Linked DNA regions of Homo sapiens. The protein of the gene in region 2 interacts with the protein of the main gene of each other region in a biochemical or structural test. Each region holds a gene or a part of one and is shown on either strand. Other genes may lie near its edges.

Evidence for each region. The genes of interacting proteins can lie anywhere in the genome.
Region 1: the proteins of PBK (region 2) and MAST3 interact in a test that uses a peptide from one of them, tested with the Homo sapiens proteins (one large-scale study listed by IntAct).
Region 3: the proteins of PBK (region 2) and SHANK2 interact in a test that uses a peptide from one of them, tested with the Homo sapiens proteins (one large-scale study listed by IntAct).
Region 4: the proteins of PBK (region 2) and SNTB2 interact in a test that uses a peptide from one of them, tested with the Homo sapiens proteins (one large-scale study listed by IntAct).

Annotation. Positions count from the first base shown.
Region 1 is NC_000019.10:18,127,946-18,133,026, reverse strand, and holds part of MAST3 (microtubule-associated serine/threonine-protein kinase 3), read right to left. Parts: intron 4,628-5,081; coding exon 4,569-4,627; intron 4,162-4,568; coding exon 4,076-4,161; intron 2,534-4,075; coding exon 2,325-2,533; intron 1,119-2,324; coding exon 980-1,118; intron 1-979.
Region 2 is NC_000008.11:27,823,674-27,828,754, forward strand, and holds part of PBK (lymphokine-activated killer T-cell-originated protein kinase), read right to left. Parts: intron 4,526-5,081; coding exon 4,432-4,525; intron 1-4,431. UniProt on the Homo sapiens protein: Phosphorylates MAP kinase p38. Seems to be active only in mitosis. May also play a role in the activation of lymphoid cells.
Region 3 is NC_000011.10:71,241,829-71,246,909, forward strand, and holds part of SHANK2 (SH3 and multiple ankyrin repeat domains protein 2), read right to left. Parts: intron 1,701-5,081; exon of another isoform or gene 1,568-1,700; intron 1-1,567. UniProt on the Homo sapiens protein: Seems to be an adapter protein in the postsynaptic density (PSD) of excitatory synapses that interconnects receptors of the postsynaptic membrane including NMDA-type and metabotropic glutamate receptors, and the actin-based cytoskeleton.
Region 4 is NC_000016.10:69,238,332-69,243,412, reverse strand, and holds part of SNTB2 (beta-2-syntrophin), read right to left. Parts: intron 1-5,081. UniProt on the Homo sapiens protein: Adapter protein that binds to and probably organizes the subcellular localization of a variety of membrane proteins. May link various receptors to the actin cytoskeleton and the dystrophin glycoprotein complex.

The sequences.
Region 1 (5,081 bases), on a different chromosome or scaffold from region 2:
GGTTCAAGAGATTCTCCTGCCTCAGCCTCCTGAGTAGCTGGGACTACAAGTGCGCGCTACCACTCCCAGCTGATTTTTGTATTTTTAGTAGAGACAAGGTTTCACTATGTTGGCCAGGCTGGGCTTGAACTCCTGACCTCAGGTGATCCGCCCGCCTTGGCCTCCCAAAGTGCTGGGATTACAGGTGTGAGCCACCAAGCCTGGCCTACATGCAAGGCTCTTAACACTCATGTTCACATCTCCACACATGTATGTGAGAAATGTCAGTTCTTGCCTCGTATCTCGAGGACACCTGACAAACAGGCATTCCTTTTTCCCTGCACACAGCAGGCGCTCAATAAATGCAGAGGAGAAAATAATACAGGGGTTTCAAAGCAGGTGGCCCTGTGTCTCCCAGTTGCCCACAGAGGGTCTGGCATGCAGTAGGTGCTTACCACCTACCAGAATAAAATAAACATCCTAAGGCTCTCAGTAAACACGTTCTCTTCCTTGCTTTCCTGCACTAATATACAGCAGGTGCTCAAGACATGCACGGTCACTGTCTTTACATGTAAGGTCTCGCAAATTGCATAATCCTGTTCTGTGTGTGTAGTTGGTGTCTTATAAGTGCATGTTCTCTCCCCTTGTGCAGCAGCAGCTCTGGGTGCGCAGCCCCTTCTCCTGTATACAGTGTGTGCATCCTAAGTGCACATCCTCTCCCCTGGATTGGCAGCACCTCCATAAGTGCACCGGCCTTCCCCTGCATACAGCAGACGCCTATTAAGTGTCTGCTCTCCTCTCCTCTGTACACACAAGATGTTCACCATGCGCTCATTCCCTGCCTTCCTGTCAGGAGGTACCAACAGAGCTCAGACAGATGGGGCTCCTGAAGGGTCCCGGGATGCACCTCAGAGGCTCTGCCCTGATCCTCTTTGGCCCCGCCCCTGATCCTCTCTGGCCCCGCCCTCCGCGAGGCCCCGCTCATGCTAGCTCAGCTCACTTGTCTGGTTTGAGGTCACGGTGCACGATGCCATAGTTATGCAGGTACTCCAGCGCCAACACCGTCTCGGCGAAGTACAGGCGGGCCATGTCCACGGGCAGCGGGCCCATGTTCTTCAGGAGCGTGGCGCAGTCGCCGCCTGGGAGAAGGGCGGATGTAGTCATGAGGCCCGGGGCACCCCCGCCCCCCGCCCGCCCCTTAGGTTATGCCCAATGCCTATGCATCCTCCTCGCTTTACCTCCTGCAAAAGGTCCCCAGTTTGTTCTATCTCAGCGGGGAGGGTCGGGGGAGAGGGAAGGGGCGGACCCTACCTTCATTTATTTTTAATTTTTTAATTTTTTCTTCTTTTTGAGAGAGAGTCTCGCTCTGTCGCCAGGCTGGAGTGCAGTGGCGCGATCTCGGCTCACTGCAACCTCCGCCTCCCGGGTTCAAGCGAGTCTCCTGCCCCAGCCTCCAGAGTAGCTGGGATTACAGGCGCACACCACCACACCCAGCTAATTTTTGTATTCTTAGTAGAGATGGGGCTTCACTATGTTGGTCAGGATGGTCTCGATCTCTTGACCTCGTGATCCACCAGCCTTGGCCTCCCAAAGTGCTGAGATTACAGGCGTTGGCCACCGCGCCTGGCCTATTTTTTAAATTTTTATTTATTTTTTTGAGACAGAGTCTCACTCTGTTGCCCGCTCTGTTGCCCAGGCTAGAGTGCAGTGGCGCAGTCTCGGCTCACTGCAAGCTCCGCCTCTAGAGTTCAAGCGAATCTCCTGCTTCAGCCTCCCGAGTAGCTGGGACTATAGGCGTGAATGGGGGTTTCGCCATGTTGCTTAGGCTGGTCTCGAAGTCCTGACCTCAAGCGATCAGCCCACTTCGGCCTCCCAAAGTGCTGGGACTACAGGCGTGAGCCAGCGCGCCAAGCTGAGACCCTGCCTTCTGATTCTCCCCGACAGGGCAGCAATTAGTGCTGTATACAGCTGGTGTCTCCTAAGTGCATGTTCGCTCTCTCGCCTGGCAGTACTTTGGTAATAGTACTTTACCTGCCTGAACCATACATCTCCCTGCCTTCACTTCTGGTCTCCAGGCCTCTGCCCATCAGTTCCCCCCACCTAGGATGGCCACCCTCCTCTTGCCTCCAGGGTCCCATCCTCACACACTCCTGTCTGGGCTCCTCCAGCCCTAAACCCCCATGGCTGGGCTCCCTACCCCAGACTGGGGTTCCTGAGGGTTCCCCAAAGCAGGGTGAGACCTCATGGAGGACAGAACAGACCTCAACTTGGTCTAAAAATTTTCTCCCAGGCGTGGAGGGGTGAGCTCCCCATCGCTGGAGGCATGCAAGCCCCAGTGAGCGTACCTTCCACGTATTCCATGACCATACATAGGTGGCGCCGGGTCTCAAAGGAGCAGAACATGCTGACCACAAAGGGGTTCTCGGCAAAGGTGAGAATGTCACGCTCCACAAAGACCTGCTGGATCTGGTTACGCAGGATCAAGTTCTGTTTGTTGATCTTCTTGATGGCAAAGCGCTGCCGTGTGTCACGGTGCCGCACCAGGTAGACGGCCCTGGGGACAGAGGGCCAGGCTTGCTGGGACCGGAGATCGAGGCCCCAGCAGGCACTACAGCTCAACTTGAGCCCAGATCCCAACCTGCCTGGCCTTTGCCTGTGCTGTGCCCTCCACCTGGGCCACCCATTCTCCTTACCTGTTCCCCCTCCCAGAGCAGCCACCTTTGGGTTTAAGCCACCATGGCTGGGGGCCATATAAATGGGCTGCACATGGCCCTTGTATATTGGCCTCTAGGTTGTATGTTTCTTTTATTTTTATTTTATCTTATGTTTTTTGAGATAGCGCCTCACTCTGTTGCCCAGGCTGGAGCACAGTCATGAGATCACGGCTCACTATAGTCTTTACCACCCCCCCGGCTCAAATGATCCTCCCACAACAGAACCTGGCTAATGTTTAAATTTTTTGTAGAGATGGGGTCTCGCTATGTTGTGGAGGCTAGTCTCAAACTCCTGGCCTCAAGTGACCCTCCCACTTCGGGCTCCCAAAGTGCTGGGATTATAGGCGAGAGCCACTGCACCTGGCTGCTTGTGTATTTCTTTCTTTCTTTCTTTCCTTTTTTTTTTTTTTTGAGATGGTCTCACTGTGTCACCCAGGCTGGAGTGCAGTGGGGTGATCTCGGCTCACTGCAACCTCTGCCTCCTGGGTTCAGGTGATCCTCCAACTTCAGCCTCCCAAGTAGCTGGAATTACAGGCATGTGCCATTACGCCCAGTTAATTATTCTATTTTTAGTATTGATGGAGTTTTGCCATGTTGCCCAGGCTGGTCTCGAACTCCTGGCCTCAAGCGATCCTCCTACCTTGGCCTCCCAAAGTGCCTCCGCACCTGGTCTAGCTCTTTTAAAAGACCGCTAGCACCAAACTCAAAGTTTTACACATCCGTTTGTTTTACACACAGACCAAGTAAGCAAAATTTTAGCCACTGAGAGCCTGTCTGCTTTGCAGACTCGTGAAACTGCACCATCTCTGAGCCATGGATAAGATGAACTTTGTGGATTTCAAGACCCTAAGCTGCTACCACCCTGCAGGGAGTCTCTGACCCAGAGATTGAGTGCCCATGCTGTTGAACAACATCACCTAGACATGTAAGCCCCCTCTCTGATCCCCCTCTGCCCGGGGAGTTCCCTTGCCGGCCTCTCCCTCTTGATGGTGACTCCTGGAACCTCAGCCTCCAAAAGGCTTATGCTATGAGGGACTTCCCTTGTATGCAAGCCTGCCATTCAAAGCAGCACCTAAATAAAGCTCACTGCGTGCTACTCCCACTGGGTGGGCATCTATTTCCTTGATCAGCCCCCAAGCCCCTAGAACGCCCTACACCTGGGGCAGGTAAAGGCCTGGCTCGTGGACAGAGCACACATGAGGCTGTAACCTCGCTATGGCGTGTCTCCACTTCCCCCTCCAGTCCTCAGGTGCCTTCTCTGCCCATTCAAGGATGAATGTGTGAGCCCTGCTGGGGTAGGAGGGGGATGCAGGAGCTGCCTGGGCCTCAACCATCCCCTCAGGCATCTGTGAAATGGGTCTATGCAGGACTCAGGGACTCACCCATAGGCTCCGTTGCTAATGAGTTTGATGGTCTCAAAGTCGCTTTCGCATGGCTTCCTCCGTGACTGGCCGACCAGGGCGCGGCTCTAGGGGATGGGAAGGGCTTAGGGTCCTGCCCCGCTGCAGAGCTGGGAAGGCTTCTCCTGCCCCCAAGCCCAAACCACTGGTCCTGGTGCCCGATGCTACCTCCTCCCCTGTCCAAACTTCTCCAACTCAGCTTCTGACTTTCTGTACTTTTTTGCTCACAGCTGTGCCCTCCTCCTGGGAAATTCTTACACGTCCTGCAAAACTCACCTGTCCAGTGCCCCTCCAGCACTGCCCCCACCCGACTTCCAAGGCAGGGCAGTCCCACGTGCCGTCACCTTGCCTCCAAAGTCACCGATGCTAATTAAGCTACATGCAAGACCTCGGCAAACCCAGCCCTTTCTGCGGGTGCCTGGTCCACTCTGGAAAGAACAAGATGAGCGGGGGTCCCCCAGCCTCTGCTACTCACCTCTGGGGACTCAGGTGCTGGGGGCTGTTCTTCTTCGAGGTGACTCAGTGGCACCATCTCTGCAAGATGAGGGAGGAGGCTCAGCTGGAGCCTCCCTGCCTCACCCTGCATCACCCAGCAATTTCCTGAGGCCTCTAGAGTTCTCACCCCAGGCTGGGGATGCAGTGCCTCCCCTGACCAGCTCTCATGACACTGTCATGAAGCCACATCCGGGAGGCTGGATGAAGCAATGACTTAGGAACCTTCTAGAAGGGCCAGTGGGCTGCCCTGGCTCTGAAGTGCTCAGTCATGATCAAACTTAGGCTCTGAGCCTTGAGCCTGTGAAGACGGGATGAGACACAGGCCCCCTGGGTGTCAGCTCCTAACATCTTCCTCAGCTCAGGGTGCAGCCCAGGTGGAGGGTCCAATATGTTCTTGCCCCAGGCCTTGGCAGAGGGGCAGCCCCTAGCGAATGCCTGGCAAACATGGTCCAGCCACAGACCACATGTGATCTGGCCTTAGGTACACCTGGGT
Region 2 (5,081 bases):
CTACACTGACCAATTCACCTTATACCTTTTACCACATGCTCAAAGATATGTGCTTAAGGAGATAATGATGAACATACAAATGAGAAAATTTTAAACTTTCTATTTTCTAGGAAGATTCAGCCATTTTACAAATATTTAAGGTATAAATGTTTTAAGGCCTAAATAGGTAAAATAAAGTCAGGGAAAGGTTTACCTGAGGTGGTAGATATTTATGAGTAGAGCAAATCACAAAATACTTAAGTATATGCAGCATAACAGCACAAAACCTAGTGAAAGAGCCTCAGAAGTTTAAGACAGAAAGTTTAATGGTAAGAACACAAAACAAGAGATTGAATCAAAGATCTGTTTAGCTTTGGACTCCCTCACAGGTATAGCTCTAAGACTGCAGAACCTTTTTTGTTTAATCAAAAAGCCTATACTAAAAGGATCACAAGATTTCTTAATTCATGTACATCTATCATCCGTAAGTTGATCTAAACTATTCTTAAACCTCCAGTTTTAAATAACAGCAGCATTTGAGGATAATGATGAGCACCTGCATATCATTTTATTATGAAAAATATATTTTTCAAATTTCAAGGGTTGAAAGTTTAGCTCTTGAAAGTTTAGAATTTAGTAAACAAGTCAATCTTCACCTTTTCCATAACATATTCTAATCTATCGAATAAGAATAGATTTATGAAATCTGAATACTCAACCATGCAAAAAGCTGGTTCATTAAAAAGACTAATAGAAAAAAGGCAAATTTCTGATGAGATTACACAAGAAAAAATAAAGACAATATCACAAATAAAAATGGAAACAAAACTACAGATACAAGAGAAAAAATATGTAAGTAAATAAAATCTTTATGCAATCATTTAAGACAAAATGGTCAAAGACTTAGAAAAATCTAAGAAAACTGATGAATGAAGAAATTTAATCACCAGTTTAAAATGTTCCTACTAGAAATACAAAGTGCAGATGATTTTACAGGTGAGTTTACTAAGCTTTCAAAGAATTTACCATTCAATCTTATACAAACTGTTTCCCCAGGGAACAGAAAAGGTACTATGAGTCTCATATAACTTTAATTTTAAAAAATCAAAAGGGACAGTAGAAAAAGGAAAACCACAAGCCAACTTCACTTATATCAGATGCAAAAATTGAAATAAACTTTAATATTAGCAAACTGAATCCATCAGTTTATTTAAAAATACTACATCAAAACTATGTTGGATTTAACCAAGAAATGCAAACTTGATTTAACAAAAAAAATATAGACTTCTGGGTTAAAATTGTAGCTTAAACATACACATTGTTTTTATCCTTTCCAAGCCCACTAACATAATAGCAAATGGATATTTTTTAGACATACAAGCCAGCAAGAATGGAAATAACAGCAGAAGAGACAACAGCAACAAAATTTCAGAAGCTGGAAAGCAGAAGAAAGTAACTGACTTAGCCCCAATGAACTGCTTGCAAGTTATTTAAAAAGCACGTAGGCCTGGAAGGGTTAGCACACAACTATAATCACAACACTTTGGGAGGCCAAGTCAGGAGGATGACTTGAGACCAGGAGTTTGAGACCAGCCTGGGCAATATAGTGAGACCCCTTCTCTACAAAAAACTTTTAAAAGTCACATGTGGTGGCCCACGCCTGTAGTCCCAGCTACTTGGGAGGCTGAGGCAGGAGGATTGCTCAAACCAAGGAGTTTGAGGCTGCAGTGAGTTATGATGGCACCATTGCACTCCAGCCTGGGCAACAAAATGAGACCCTGTCTCTAAATAATAATGGTAAAAAACAGGTGGACTCGTAGATACCCTCCTTAATTCTGTACCAACTGGCAGCTGCCCACCCCCCTTCCCCAGCTTCTAAAGATGGTAGACTAGCTTTGGAAGGTATAAAACAAGTCTTTAGCCTGAGGTTTACTGTCAGTTGAGAACCTGTAATACAGAAGCAGGTTAATAATTAATCACCATATGCATACTAAATGCTCAATGAGTTTTTACATGTGCATATACCTGTGTTATCAACACCTAGATACCGAACATTTCTAGCACTCCAAGAGACTAAAGATGCTATTTTTAAAAAGATAATTAATTAAAAACAAGATAAAAACTCAATAGAATTGTTGAAAGATAAAGCTGGGGAAATCTCAGAAAAAAGATAGCGAATAAGAAAACCAAGCAAAAAAGAGGTAGATGAGAAATCAGTAAGTTCAACATTCAAATAATTGGATTCCAGATGGAGAACAGAGAAAAAGAGGTGAAAATCATCAACAAAGTAATTTTTAAAATAATGTCTCAGAAATTTAAGAACAGGAACTATTCAGATTCCAAGATCCCCACATCCACTCATGTCATTGTGAAATTTCAGAATGCTACCGACATACAGAAGATCATACCAGGATCCAGGACAGTGGGGGGGACAGATAACATAAAACGGATTACATATGAAGAATTAGCAGTCAAAAAGGCTTCATAATTCTCAACAGCAACAGTGTAAGCTAGAAAAAAAACAATGTCAGTGACTGATATTCTCAAAATTCTGGAGGGAAATTGTTTCCAAATGAGAATTGTAACCCAGAAAACCAAAAAGGGCCATTCAAGTATGAGTAAAATGAAAACATTTTTGGAAATGCAAATTCTCAAAAAAATATATCTTCTGTGCACCGATTCATGGGGAGCTACCAGATGTCCTAAATGAAAACGGGATGTAAATCAAGAAATAATAAGACACAAGATACCTAAAAACACAGGATATAATTCAGCAGAGAAGCATAGGAAATTTGCAGGTTATGGATAAAAGAAATCCCAGGTTGACAGGGCTGAATCAGGAGGAGTGTAGGGTCAGGCAGGCACTGCTGTTCTTCAAGATCAGCTATTTGCCCAGCACTTTGGGAGGCCGAGGCGGGCGGATCACGAGGTCAGGAGATCGAGACCATCCTGGCTAACACGGTGAAACCCCGTCTCTACTAAAAATACAAAAAATTAGCCGGGCGTGGTGGCGGGCGCCTGTAGTCCCAGCTACTCGGGAGGCTGAGGCAGGAGAATGGCGTGAACCAGGGAGGCGGAGCTTGCAGTGAGCCGAGATCGCGCCACTGCACTCCAGCCTGGGCGACAGAGCGAGACTCCGTCTCAAAAAAAAAAAAAAAAAAAAAGATCAGCTATTTGAAGCTTTTTGACTAAACCACATACAGTGTAACTTTGTTAAAAACACTTTACATTTAAAAACTTTTTTTAAAAAGGGGGAAAAAAATGAAACTAGCCATAAACCTGTGAGAATTTTTTTCTTTCAAAATAGGAGTTAACACTAAAAAACAAATTAGAAAACAATACCATACAAACATACAAAAAAAATGTTTAAACTGCAAAAATGCTTCAGGAATACCCATTGTATATAATTACTAAATTATTCTTAATTAGCCTCTTATTAAAGAAAGCATTTCTATCTGGAAACAATGTAAACCTAGATGAAGCTAAGATACGGAGGGTTGGACTAGTTAGACTGATTCCAAGAATGCATTAAGGAATATATATTGATGTAGTTGTTTGCCACTTAATAAACATGAAACTAGGTACAGAGTAATGATTAAAAGAAGTAATTTTGGGCTGGGCATGGTGGCTTACACCTGTAATCCCAGCATTTTGGGAGGCGAAGGCGGGCAGATCGCTTGAGGCCAGAGTTCGAGACCAGCCTGGCCAACATGGCAAAACCCTGTCTCTACTAAAAATACAAAAATTAGCTGGGTGTGATGGTACACGCCTGTAATCCCAGCTATTCAGGAGGCTGAGGCAGGAGAAGCGCTTGAACCTGGGAGGTCGTGCCACTGCACTCCAGCCTGGTCAACAGAGTGAGACTCTGTTTCAAAAAAATATATGAATAATAAAAAAGTAATTTAAAAAAACACTTTGTTGACAGCTATATTGGCACCATACTTGTTCGATTATTTCATTTTTCTTAACACAATATTCCTACTTTAAAATCATGTATTTACCCTTCTTAATAACAATGCCATAAGAAATGAAAATCTTTTACTTCTTTTAGAAGAGCATATCTTAGGAGGGCAACGCTGCAGAAAAGACAGCAGTCACTGACATCACCCAATACTGGCTTCCTCTTTGAGGTTTTCTCATGAAGAATCTGGTTTAATTACCACAAAGGAACCCTTTCCCCTGCCACTTCCCCTTCTTATGGAAGCCAAGGAAAAATTAAAAAGTAAATGACTTCCCCTTTAATAACCCATCAGGAGGAAGCTAGGAGAAAAGCAGAGGCAGAGCTACAGGCAAAGTTACAAAAGGGTCTAGGGACCGGAATACAGCCATCAGCCAGGATCAGGAGCAGACAACCGAATCTAAATACTGGAATTTTCAGACTACTTCTTTGTCTCCAAGTACAGTAGAATTATAGTTGCATGAAAAAAGGTTAATCTGAAATCTTATACTTACCTTTTCATTAGGTACACATTTACCCCAGTACCAAAGCCAAGCTTCTGCATAAACGGAGAGGCCGGGATATTTATAGTTGGAGTTGAACATAATACTAAATGTCAGAGAAATAAAAAATAAAATTAATAAAAAATAAAAATAAAGCATCTTAACATTCTCAATATACTACTGCCAAGAGTATTAATTGGCACAGTCTTTTTGGAGAGCAATTTGACAACATATATCCTAATTTTAAATGGGTATCTTTTGACCAAGCCTACTTTTGGAGTTTTATCCTACAGTAACTCTGAAGCAGAGATTGGGAAATGGCCTGTTTTTGTATGGCCTACAAGCTAAGAACTGTTTTCACATTTTTAAAACATTGTTAAAAGATAAAGGGGTTGGATGTGGTGGCTCATGCCTATAATCTCAACGCTTTTGGAGTCCGGGGCAGGAGGGTCACTTGAGCCCAGTAGAGACCAGCTTGGGCAACATAAAGAGACTCCATCTCTACACACGAAAAAATTTTTTTAATTAGCCAGGAATGATGGCACACACCTGTGGTCTCAGCTACTTGGGAGAAACACTTGAGCCCAGGAGGTTAAGGGTGCAGGTGCAGTGAGCTGTGTTCAGCCTGGGTGACAGAGCAAGACACAGTCTCAAAAAAAAAA
Region 3 (5,081 bases), on a different chromosome or scaffold from region 2:
AGTGGGTAAAAGATCTCAGCTTTAGTATCTCAAGACCAGACGGGCCTGGGGCTGGACGCTGCTTTTGAAGGTGTTTTCTAAAAGCAAGGACTCAAGATACTTGCACAACCATGTTCGCAGTAGCATTATTCACAACAGCCAGAGGGTGAAGCCACCCAGGTCCTCAAGGATGGATGAATGTATAAACAAAATGTGGCCCATCCACACAATGGAATATTACTCAGCCACAAAAAGGAAGGAAATTCTGACACACGCTACAACATGGATGAGGCTTGAGAACATTATGCTGAGTGAATTAAGCCAGACTCAAAAAGACAAACACTGCATGATTCCACTTGGATGAGGTCCCTACAGAAGTCAAAGAGACAGAAAACAGACTGGTGGTCGCCAGGGGCTGGGAGAAGGGGGCTGGTTTGCTAGTGTTTAGTGGGGACGTAGTTTCAGTTCTGCAAGCTGAAGAGTTCTACAGATACATGGTGACGATGGCTGCAGAGCACGATGAGCATCCTTAATGCCTCAGAACTACACACCTAAAAATGGTGAAAAGGGTAACTTTTTATGTTATAGGTATTTTGCACAATTTATAAAATGTGCATTGGGAAAAAAAGTGCTCTCAATTTCCACTGAACTCTTCCTGTATCACACACCGCTTCCTTTACCTCCTTTAAGTGTTTGCTCAAGGACCGCTACCTCAATGCAGCTCACCCCGACCATCCTGCTAAAACAGCAGCCCCCCTGGCTCCCAGCCCCCACCAGCAAGCTCTCCTTTCCTCCCACACTACATCACTGCTTATTTATGATCTCCTTTAATTATTGTTTGCTCCCCTGGCGAGGATGTCGACCCTACAAGGGCAGAAATATTTGTCTGTCTGGTTCACTGTTGTATCCCAGAGTCTAGAGCAGCCTAGCAGACACCTGCAGCACATGCCACAAAAGACGGCAGAATACTCATTCTTCTCAAGGGCACGTGGAACATTCTCCAGGAGAGGCCTCATGCCCGGCTATAAAACAGCCTCATTAAACATCAGCAGGACTGAAATTATACAAATAATGTTCTCCAACCACAATAGAATGAAATTCGAAATTTATTTTACAAATGCACAAATATGTGGAAATTAAACAGACATCTAAATAGCCAATGGGTCAGAGAATAAACCACGGGGAAATTGGAAAACACTTTGAAACGAGTGAAAAAGAAGACAAAACACATCAAAACTTATGGAATACAACTAAAGCAGTACTTAAAGGAAATTCAGATCTGTAAATGTCTATGTTAAAAAGAAGAAAAATCTCAAATCAATAACCAAAACCTTCCACCTTGTGAGAGTCAGAAAAAGAACGGGAAACTGAAACTGAGCTAGCAGAAGGAAGGAAATAATAAAGGTTAGGGCTGAAGTTAATGAAATCTAAGCTAGAAAAGCAATAAAGAAAATCAATGAAACTACAAGTTGGTTATTTGAAAAGATCAACGAAATTTACAAACCTGAGCTGAAATGATCAAGAAAAGAAGGGAAGACTCAAATTACCAAACTCAGGAATGAAAGAAGGGACATTATTACCAACTTACAGAATTAAAAGGAGTCAGGCCGGGCGTGGTGGCTGATGCCTGTAATCCCAGAACTTTGGGAGGCTGAGGCGGGCGGATCACGAGGTCAGGAGATCAAGACCATCCTGGCTAGCACGGTGAAACCCCGTCTCTACTAAAAATACAAAAAAATTAGTTGGGCCTGGTGGTGGGCGCCTGTAGTGCCAGCTACTCGGGAGGCTGAGTCAAGAGAATGGTGTAAGCCCGGGAGGCGGAGCTTGCAGTGAGCTGAGATCACGCCACTGCACTCCAGCCTAGGCAACAGAGCAAGACTCTGTCTCAAAAAAATAATAACAATAATAATAATGAGACGGTGCTACAAACAACTACATAGCAACCACATTAGAGAAACTCACATGAAGTGGACACATTTCTGGTGGGACACAAACTAACAAACTTGACTCAAGAAGAAACAGAAAATCTAAAAAGACCTATGACAAGCAGAGATCCAATCAATAATTTTAAAAGTTTTCACAAAGAAAAGCCTAGGCCCAGATGGCTTTATTGGTGAATTCTACCAAACATTTAAAGAAGAATGAAGGCCAATTTTGCATAAACTTTTCAGAAAAAAATGGAAGACAATGCTTCCCAAGTCATCTTATGAGGCCAGTATTACTCTGATACCAAAACCAGACTTCAAAAGAAAACTATAGGCTTCCTTGGGCAGCCAGACACCTACAAAGTCCTCTCCACTCTCCTGTCTACACTTGCAAGCCTGCCTCACTCTATAAATTGGCCAGGCTGCTCTCTCAGAGTCTCCTAAACTGCCTTAGGCTCTGCCAGCCTCCTTGACCCCACAGCCTGGAAGGTGCCTCTGCATGCTCCCACCATCCTAGACCCCACAATCAGAGGGCCTGCCCCTGGGGTCGGAACCAGCTGGTGGCTGTCTGAAGCCCCTGACTAAACTCCACAGACATATCCTGAACGACAAGAAAAGGTACATGCATCATTCAAAGCACCCTTTGGACCACATGGCACAGCCAGCTTTCAAACGGGACCCATGCACTGACAAGGCGGATCACACGCTCCTCCCAGAGGCTCTCAGCGTGCAGCCCCGGGAACCAGCCTATTCGAGAGATCTATGAAGTCAAACCATTCTCATCATAACACTGAGATGGGAGCTGCTTTTTCAAGCTCATCCTCTCCCAAGTGCACAACGGAAGCTACAAAACTTGTGATATTGCAACAAGCTGACTGCAGGAGCAGATACGGGAACCCAGCTGTCTTCCATTAAACCTCACAGCAAAAAGACCACAAAAATGTTAAACAATGCCACTCTTCTCACCAAGTGTTTTTTTGTTGTTGTTGAGATGGACTGTCACTCTGTTGCCCAGGCTAGAGTGCAGTGGGGCAATCTTGGCTCACTGCAACCTCCGCCTGCCGGGTTCAAGTGATCTCTTGTGCCTTAGCCTTCTGAGTAGCTGGGACTACAAGTGTGCCCCACTGTGCCTGGCTAATTTTTGTATTTTTAGTGGAGATGGGGTTTCACCATTTTGGCCAGGCTGGTCTCGAACTCCTGACCTCAAGTGATCCACCCGTCTCGGCCTCCCAAAGTGCTGGGGTTACAGGTGTGAGCCACTGCACTATTTTTTTTCCTCACTCTGTCACCCAGGCTAGAGTACAGTGGCGTGATCACGGCTCACTGCAACATCGACCTCTCAGGCTCAGGTAATCCTCCCACCTCAGCTTCCTGAGTAGCTGGGACCACAGGTGCGTGCCACTACACCTGGCTAATTTTTTATTTTTTGTAGAGATGGGGTCTCATTATATTGCCTAGGCTGGTCTCAAATTCCTGGCCTCAAGCAATCCTCCTGCCTCAGCCTCCCAAAGTGCTGGGATTACAGGCCTGAGCCACCTCGACCGGCCTCACCAAGTGTTTTTCTTATTTTGAAAATAGTTGTTATCCATAAAAACACATTATTTATACCAACATGTCATGAGTTTATTACTATTTTTAAATGCATTAATAATTAGATATTTGTAAATTCTAATAGCGTAAATAACAATAGATTCGTGCTCATACATAAAAAGCTTCTGGGTCCTTCAAAATGCTAAGAGAGCAAAAAAGATTCCTTAAGCTAGAAGTCTGACAACCACTGTGCTACCTCATCTGCTTTACCTGAAAGTGAACAGAAAAATAAACTGGTGTGCCACCCAGGAGGCAATCTGGAGGCCGGGGAAGCGACCGGTGCCTTCTTCTGCACGGTGGAGTGGGCAGCCGCCAGGTGTGGATCCCAGCTGGGCCACACGACCTTCGGCAAGTTCAGCCACTGGAGCTGAATGACCCTCGAGGGAGGGAAAGTCCAGAACCAAGACGAGGGGCAGTAGCGACGCCATCGGGTCAGTATCTTCCCCTGCCAAAGTCCCCTGGTCCATGCTTGGGGCCACTGTAGGACCTTGAAATGCAGACAGGAGCAAGGCGTGGTCCCTTTCCTGGGGGACCTGTCCACCTCGTGAGGAGGGGTCAGACAGGAGCCCGGCTGGCCCAGGGGCAAATGCCTCTAGTTTGCAGGCCCCTGTACGGGAAGAGGGGAGTGGAGCAGATTCTTCAAATCCCAGGGACATTTGTGCGGGGTGGCAGGAAAAACATGGACAGGAACGGCTGAGCCCTATGCTCTCAGGGGTACAAATGAGGCCACAGAAGCATCCCCCTCCACTCCCCAGGAAGCCTGCATTCTCCCCAGGGAAGGAATCCAGGGCAGGATTTTCAGGAAAGACAGGCTTGGAAGCTCATTTCCCACCTCCCAGGAGCCCGGAAGTCTGTGTCAGCTCCAGGTCTGGAAACCCAGGATGCCCTGCACCCCATTCCTTGGGCCCTAAGCCTCCCAGGACCCACCCCAGTGGACCAGGGAGCAGACTGCCAGCTGTCCAGACTCTTGGCCATTCCCCACCCCCACCGAGGACTCTAGGTGCTGACTCTGGATTCTCCTTGAGAAGAGGAGGGGACTGATGAGCCGGAGTGAGGAAGACGTGGGGCAGGACACCCCCAAGTCTGCAGGGAGGCAGCAAAGCCTGGCAGTATGCAGAGCACACACCTGGCATCACATGTCACTGCCTTCACGTAAGTATCATCACTGTCCCCAGGTAAGAATCACCTGCAGGACCTTGAGTACAGGTGTAATCTTGTGAACTAAGATCTCCCTTGCAGGGGGCTTCAAACTGAGGTGCAAGGACCCTTTCCACGTAGACCCAGCTCAGTCTAAAGGGTAGCCAAGTCTTTCCTGAAATTGCTCAGTGGAGAAAGGCCTTGGATCCCCTGCCCACCTCCCCTCCCTAACATCCCTGAGGCTCTTTTACATAAGAAAGGCATAGCTATCCCCCGGAAGCTGGTGAGGGGGTGGTGCAGCTCCAGGTGAAGGGCCCTCCTGATACCAAAACAAAAGGGCTAATGCAACTAGGGCTTCAATTAAAACACCAAAAACACCCACTGCCTTCTCACTCAGAGAGGCAGCTCCAGTAACAGCTCCCCTTTTCCATTTCTAAAAATCTGTAATAT
Region 4 (5,081 bases), on a different chromosome or scaffold from region 2:
GAGCAATGAATTTTATCTGAGTTGATGGCAATGCAGTCCATACCCCCATCTAATTAGCCATCCAGAATGGCTGAAGAGCTGTGGATGGACATCTGTTTCTATGTTTGGGAATGGCAAAAAGTTAACAGTCTTCTGTTTCAGTCCTATGTTAAGGCCTTAACCTGGACACGTGGCTGGATAAGCAGAGCCTTTACACCCCCACATGGAGCTTTCAGTTCAACTCAGAATCCACAACATATTTCAGAATCATTTCATTTTTCCTGATAGTTGAAGATAATCCTCAAAATAATTTAATTAAACACTGATGTTTACAAACTGTTTTGAGTGTTCAGATGCTGAAGCTAATTTTCTTTCTTCCATTCATGTATCCCTTTTTTTTTTTTTTTTTTTTTAAGATGCAGTCTCACTCTGTCGCCCAGGCTGGAGTGCAGTGGCACAATCTCAGCTCACTGCAAACTCTGCCTCCTGGGTTCACGCCATTCTCCTGCCTTAGCCTCCCCAGTAACTGGGACTACAGGCGCCCGCCACCACGCCCGGCTAATTTTTTGTATTTTTAGTAGAGACGGGGTTTCACCGTGCTAGCCAGGATGGTCTCGATCTCCAGACCTCGTGATCCACCCGCCTTGGCCTCCCAAAGTGCTGGGATAACAGGCTTGAGCCACTATGCCCGGCCTCACGTATCCCTTTTACTGAACGTGAAGGTGGGCTTCCTCCCACCCCAAAAGCATTACTGTGATCCCTTCTCTTCTTTAGAGTGACAAAAACACATACATGTACTGCACACATGTACCTGTAAAGATGTCTGGAAGGAACTTAATCAAAATATCAATAGTGCTTATATACAGGTGTAGGATTGCATTTTTTTCTTTATGTTGTTCTGTATATTTAAAATTTTTGTTAAGTCCATAGTATTTATTTTAAAAACGTATTTAAGAAATGAAGAAAACTTATTCTGAGACCTTGTTCAAACTCTATCTTAATTTTATTTTTGAGACAGGGTCTCACTCTGTCCCTCAGGTTGCAGGGCAGTGGCACAATCATAGCTCACTGTAACCTCAAATTCTTGGGTTCAAGTGATCCTGCCTCAGCCTCCTGAGTAGCTGCAACTATAGGCACACACCGACACATCTGGCTAACTTTTTAATTTTTTGTAGAGACAAGGTCTTGCTATTTTGCCCAGGCTGATCTCAAACTCCTGGCTTCAAGCAACCCTCCCGCCTTAGCCTCTCAAAGCGTTGGGATTACAAGCATGAGCCACCACCCAGCCTGTTGCTCAAACTTTAAACATGAAAGACATGTAAACGGAAATCTTGAGGCTTCAAAAACTATAATGCACTGGATAGGATCCAAAATCCAACTGATTCTTACTGAATTCTAAGCTCTAATGAATAAGGTTATGAAGAGTTCCATGTTTGGGGCATGAGGCAGCATCTGATTTTAAACTGAATGCAAGTGGCTTCTTTTTTTTTTTTTTTTTTTTTTTTGAGACAAGGTCTGGCTCTATCACCCAGGTTGAAGTGCAGTGGCATGATCTCAGCTCACTGCAACCTCCGCCTCCTGGGCTCAAACCATCCTCCCATCTTAGCCTCCTGAGTGGCTGAGACTACAGGTGCACACCACCATACCCACCTAATTTTTGTACTTTTAGTAGAGACAGGGTTTTGCCATTTGCCCAGGCTGGTCTCTAATTGGTGAGCTCAAACAATCCACCCGCCTTGGCCTCCCAAAGGGCTGGGATTATAGGTATGAGCCACTGCACCCCACCTGTTAAGTGGCTTTTTTTTTTTTAGTAGAGACGGGGTTTCACCATGTTGGCCAGACTGCTTGCCAACTCCTGACCTCAAGTGATCTGCCCACCTCGGAGTCTCCCAAAGTGCTGGGATTACAGGCTTGAGCCACCACGCCCACCCTGGCTTTTTAAAGCTTATCTAGGCTGGTGCTGAGCATGGTGGCTCACACCTGTAATCCCAGCACTTTGGGAGGCCGAGGTGGGTGGATCACGAGGTCAGGAGTTCAAGACCAGTCTGGCCAAGATGGTGAAACCCCATCTCTACTAAAAAATATAAAAATTTGCCGGGTGCGGTGGCAGGCACCTGTAATCCCAGCTACTGGGGAGGCTGAGGCAGGAGAATTGCTTGAACCCAGGTGGCAGAGGTTGCAGTGAGCTGAGATTGTGCCACTGCACTCCAGCCTGGGCTAGAAAGTGAGGCTCCATCACAAAAAAAAAAAAAAAAAAAAAAAAAAGCTTATCCAGGCCGGGCACGGTGGCTCATACCTGTAATCCCAGCACTTTGGGAGGCCAAGGCGAGTGGATCACTTGAGGTCAGGAGTTCAAGACCAGCCTGGCCAACATGGCGAAAGTCCATCTCTACTAAAAATACAAAATTAGCCAGGTGTGGTGGCGGGCACCTGTAATCCCAGCTACTTAGGAGGCTGAGGCAGGAGAACTGCTTGAACCCGGGAGGCAGAGGTTACAGTGAGCCAAGGTCATGCTATTGCACTCCAGCCTGGACAACAAGAGCAAAACTCCATCTCAAACAAACAAACAAATAAACAAAACGAAACGAAACAAAAACCTTATCCAAAAAGGATACATAATAGGGCAGACACAGCCTACGGCTGCAAACACACATATTTGGATAAATGGATCAACCTCTTTTATAAACATCAACTTCTCATATAATCGTTATGTTCCTTTTTATCTCTAACTCTTACCTTTTCCATGCCCCAACTGGTGATCTTTACTATGAGTTTAAGTGAAACTAAGTTAGTCACACAACATTATTTCCCCTGCTTTTGCAAGCAAGTTTGTTCCTGGATTATTCTCAGAGTGGAATATCTGGCTGTGCATTTTGCACAGGAATGAGTTATGTTGACAGTCACTGTTAAAGTATTCTCTCAGGAGGATTCTCTCCAACCTCATCCCAAGCTCTTCTCTCAAGTCAGGAGGCTGATAAATGACCACCAAAAACACGAGGAAGGAATTGCTTTGCTTTGAGTAAAAAGCCTTTTACATTCTCAACTTGCAGGTGTCTTTCAGCTCAAGTCTCCTGGCCATTTGGGGTTTGAGTAGACTGCAGTCTAGAGTCTGGTGACATGAACCTTGAATGAGTTCAGAGTGACTCTTTCACTCTTCCTCTTCATTCTAAAATAACATAGCAAATTCACTAATTTATTGAGCTCCTACTATATACCAGGAACTGTTTTAGGCATGTAGAATTATTAGCCAGTGAATAAAATATGCAAAAAATAATAATGTAATTAATAATTTAATGAAATTCTAGAGAAATGAAAACTTACATTCACACAAAAGCCTGTACACTAATGTTCTTAGCAGCTCTATTCGTAAGTACCACAGCTGGAAACAACCCAAATTTCCTTCAATGGAAGTGAATGGATAAACTGTGATACAGCTATAGAATAGAACACTATTCAGAAATAAAAAGGAACAAACTATTTATAACTCAGTAACTTGGATGAATCTGAAAGGCATTATACCAGTCTCAAAAGTTGTATGACCCCATTATTGAAAAGAAAAAAATATATGATGAAAAATTCAGTGGTTTCTAGCCAGGCGTCGTGGCTCATGCCTGTAATCCCAGCACTTTGAGAGGCTAAAGTGAGCAGATCACTTGAGGTTAGGAGTTCAAGACCAGCCTGGCCAACATGGTGAAACCCCACCTCTGCTAAAAAAACAAAAATTAGCCAGGCATAGTGGTGCACGCCTGTAAGCCCAGCTACTCAGGAGGCTGAGGCAGGAGGCTTGAACCCAGGAGGCAGAGGTTGCAGTGAGCTGAGATTGCGCCACTGCACTCCAGCCTGGGCAACAGAGCGAGACCCTGCCTTGACTAAATAAATAAATAAATAAATAAATAAAAATAAATTCAGTGGTTTCTAAGGGTTAGGGGTGAGAAGGGATATGATTATAAAGGGATAGCACAACAGAGTTTTCTGAAACCATGGAATGGTCCTGTATCCTGATTGTGGTGACAGTTACAAGAATTTATGTATGTGTCCAGATTCATAGAACTGTATACCTTAAGGGGAAAAAATTCAATTGTACAGTATGATAATTACAAAATAAAATAAGTAAATTATACAGTATATTGGAAGATGTTAAGTGTAATGGGAAAATGAAACACAGCAAGGGAAGGGGTCAGAAATGCTGCCCAGGGTGTCAGTTTGTAAATTTTAAATATGGTAGTTAGGGTAAGCCATTAATAAGATGTTTGAACAAAGACTTTAGGAGATGGGGGAGTTGGCCATGCAAATATCTGGGAGAAACATTCCAGCCAGGGAGACAGTGTTAGGACAGTAACAGGAGTTACTAACAGGAGTGTTAGACAGTAAGGAGACCCAGAGTAACTGGAGCTGGGTAAGTGAGGGGGACAGAGTAGTAAATGGGGTCACAAAGGTAACGGGGCTGGGAGGCAGACCATGTACGGCCTTTTAGGTCATGGCAAGGACTTTGGCTTTTATTCTGAAACAGGAAGCTATTGGGAGATTTTCAGGAGCAAGTGACCACTATGTTGAAAATAGAATAAAAGAAGGCCAAGGCAAAAGCAGGAAGACCAGCTGGCAGGTTAACAGGGATGAGAGATGATAGGAGTTGGACCAGGGGAATAGTAGTGGAGGTGGTGAGAAGTGGTCAGATTCTACATCAGATTACATAAGGGGGTGGCAAAAAGAAGAGTCAAGGATAATGTCAAGATTTTTGTCCCGAACAAGGCTAGAAGGATAGCGTTCCCCTTGACAGCTTTAGAAGAAAGATCAGGAACTTGAGACATACATTAGACAATCAAGTCTAACAGGCAGCTAGATATATAAGTCTGCAGTTCAGGAAATGGGTGTAGGCTAAAAACATAAATTTGGGAGCTATTAGCATATAGTTGCTATTTAATGCCATGAAACTGGATAAGATCACTGTATCAGTCAGGATCCCAGCAGGAAACGATAGTAAGGGATTTAATAAAGGGACAACTTATGAAGATGTGGGCAGAGTGCAGGGAAACCACATGGAAAAATAGAGTGTAGTATCCCATGGCTATTAGCTGTTTCCACATGTAGGCCTGAAGGAAATA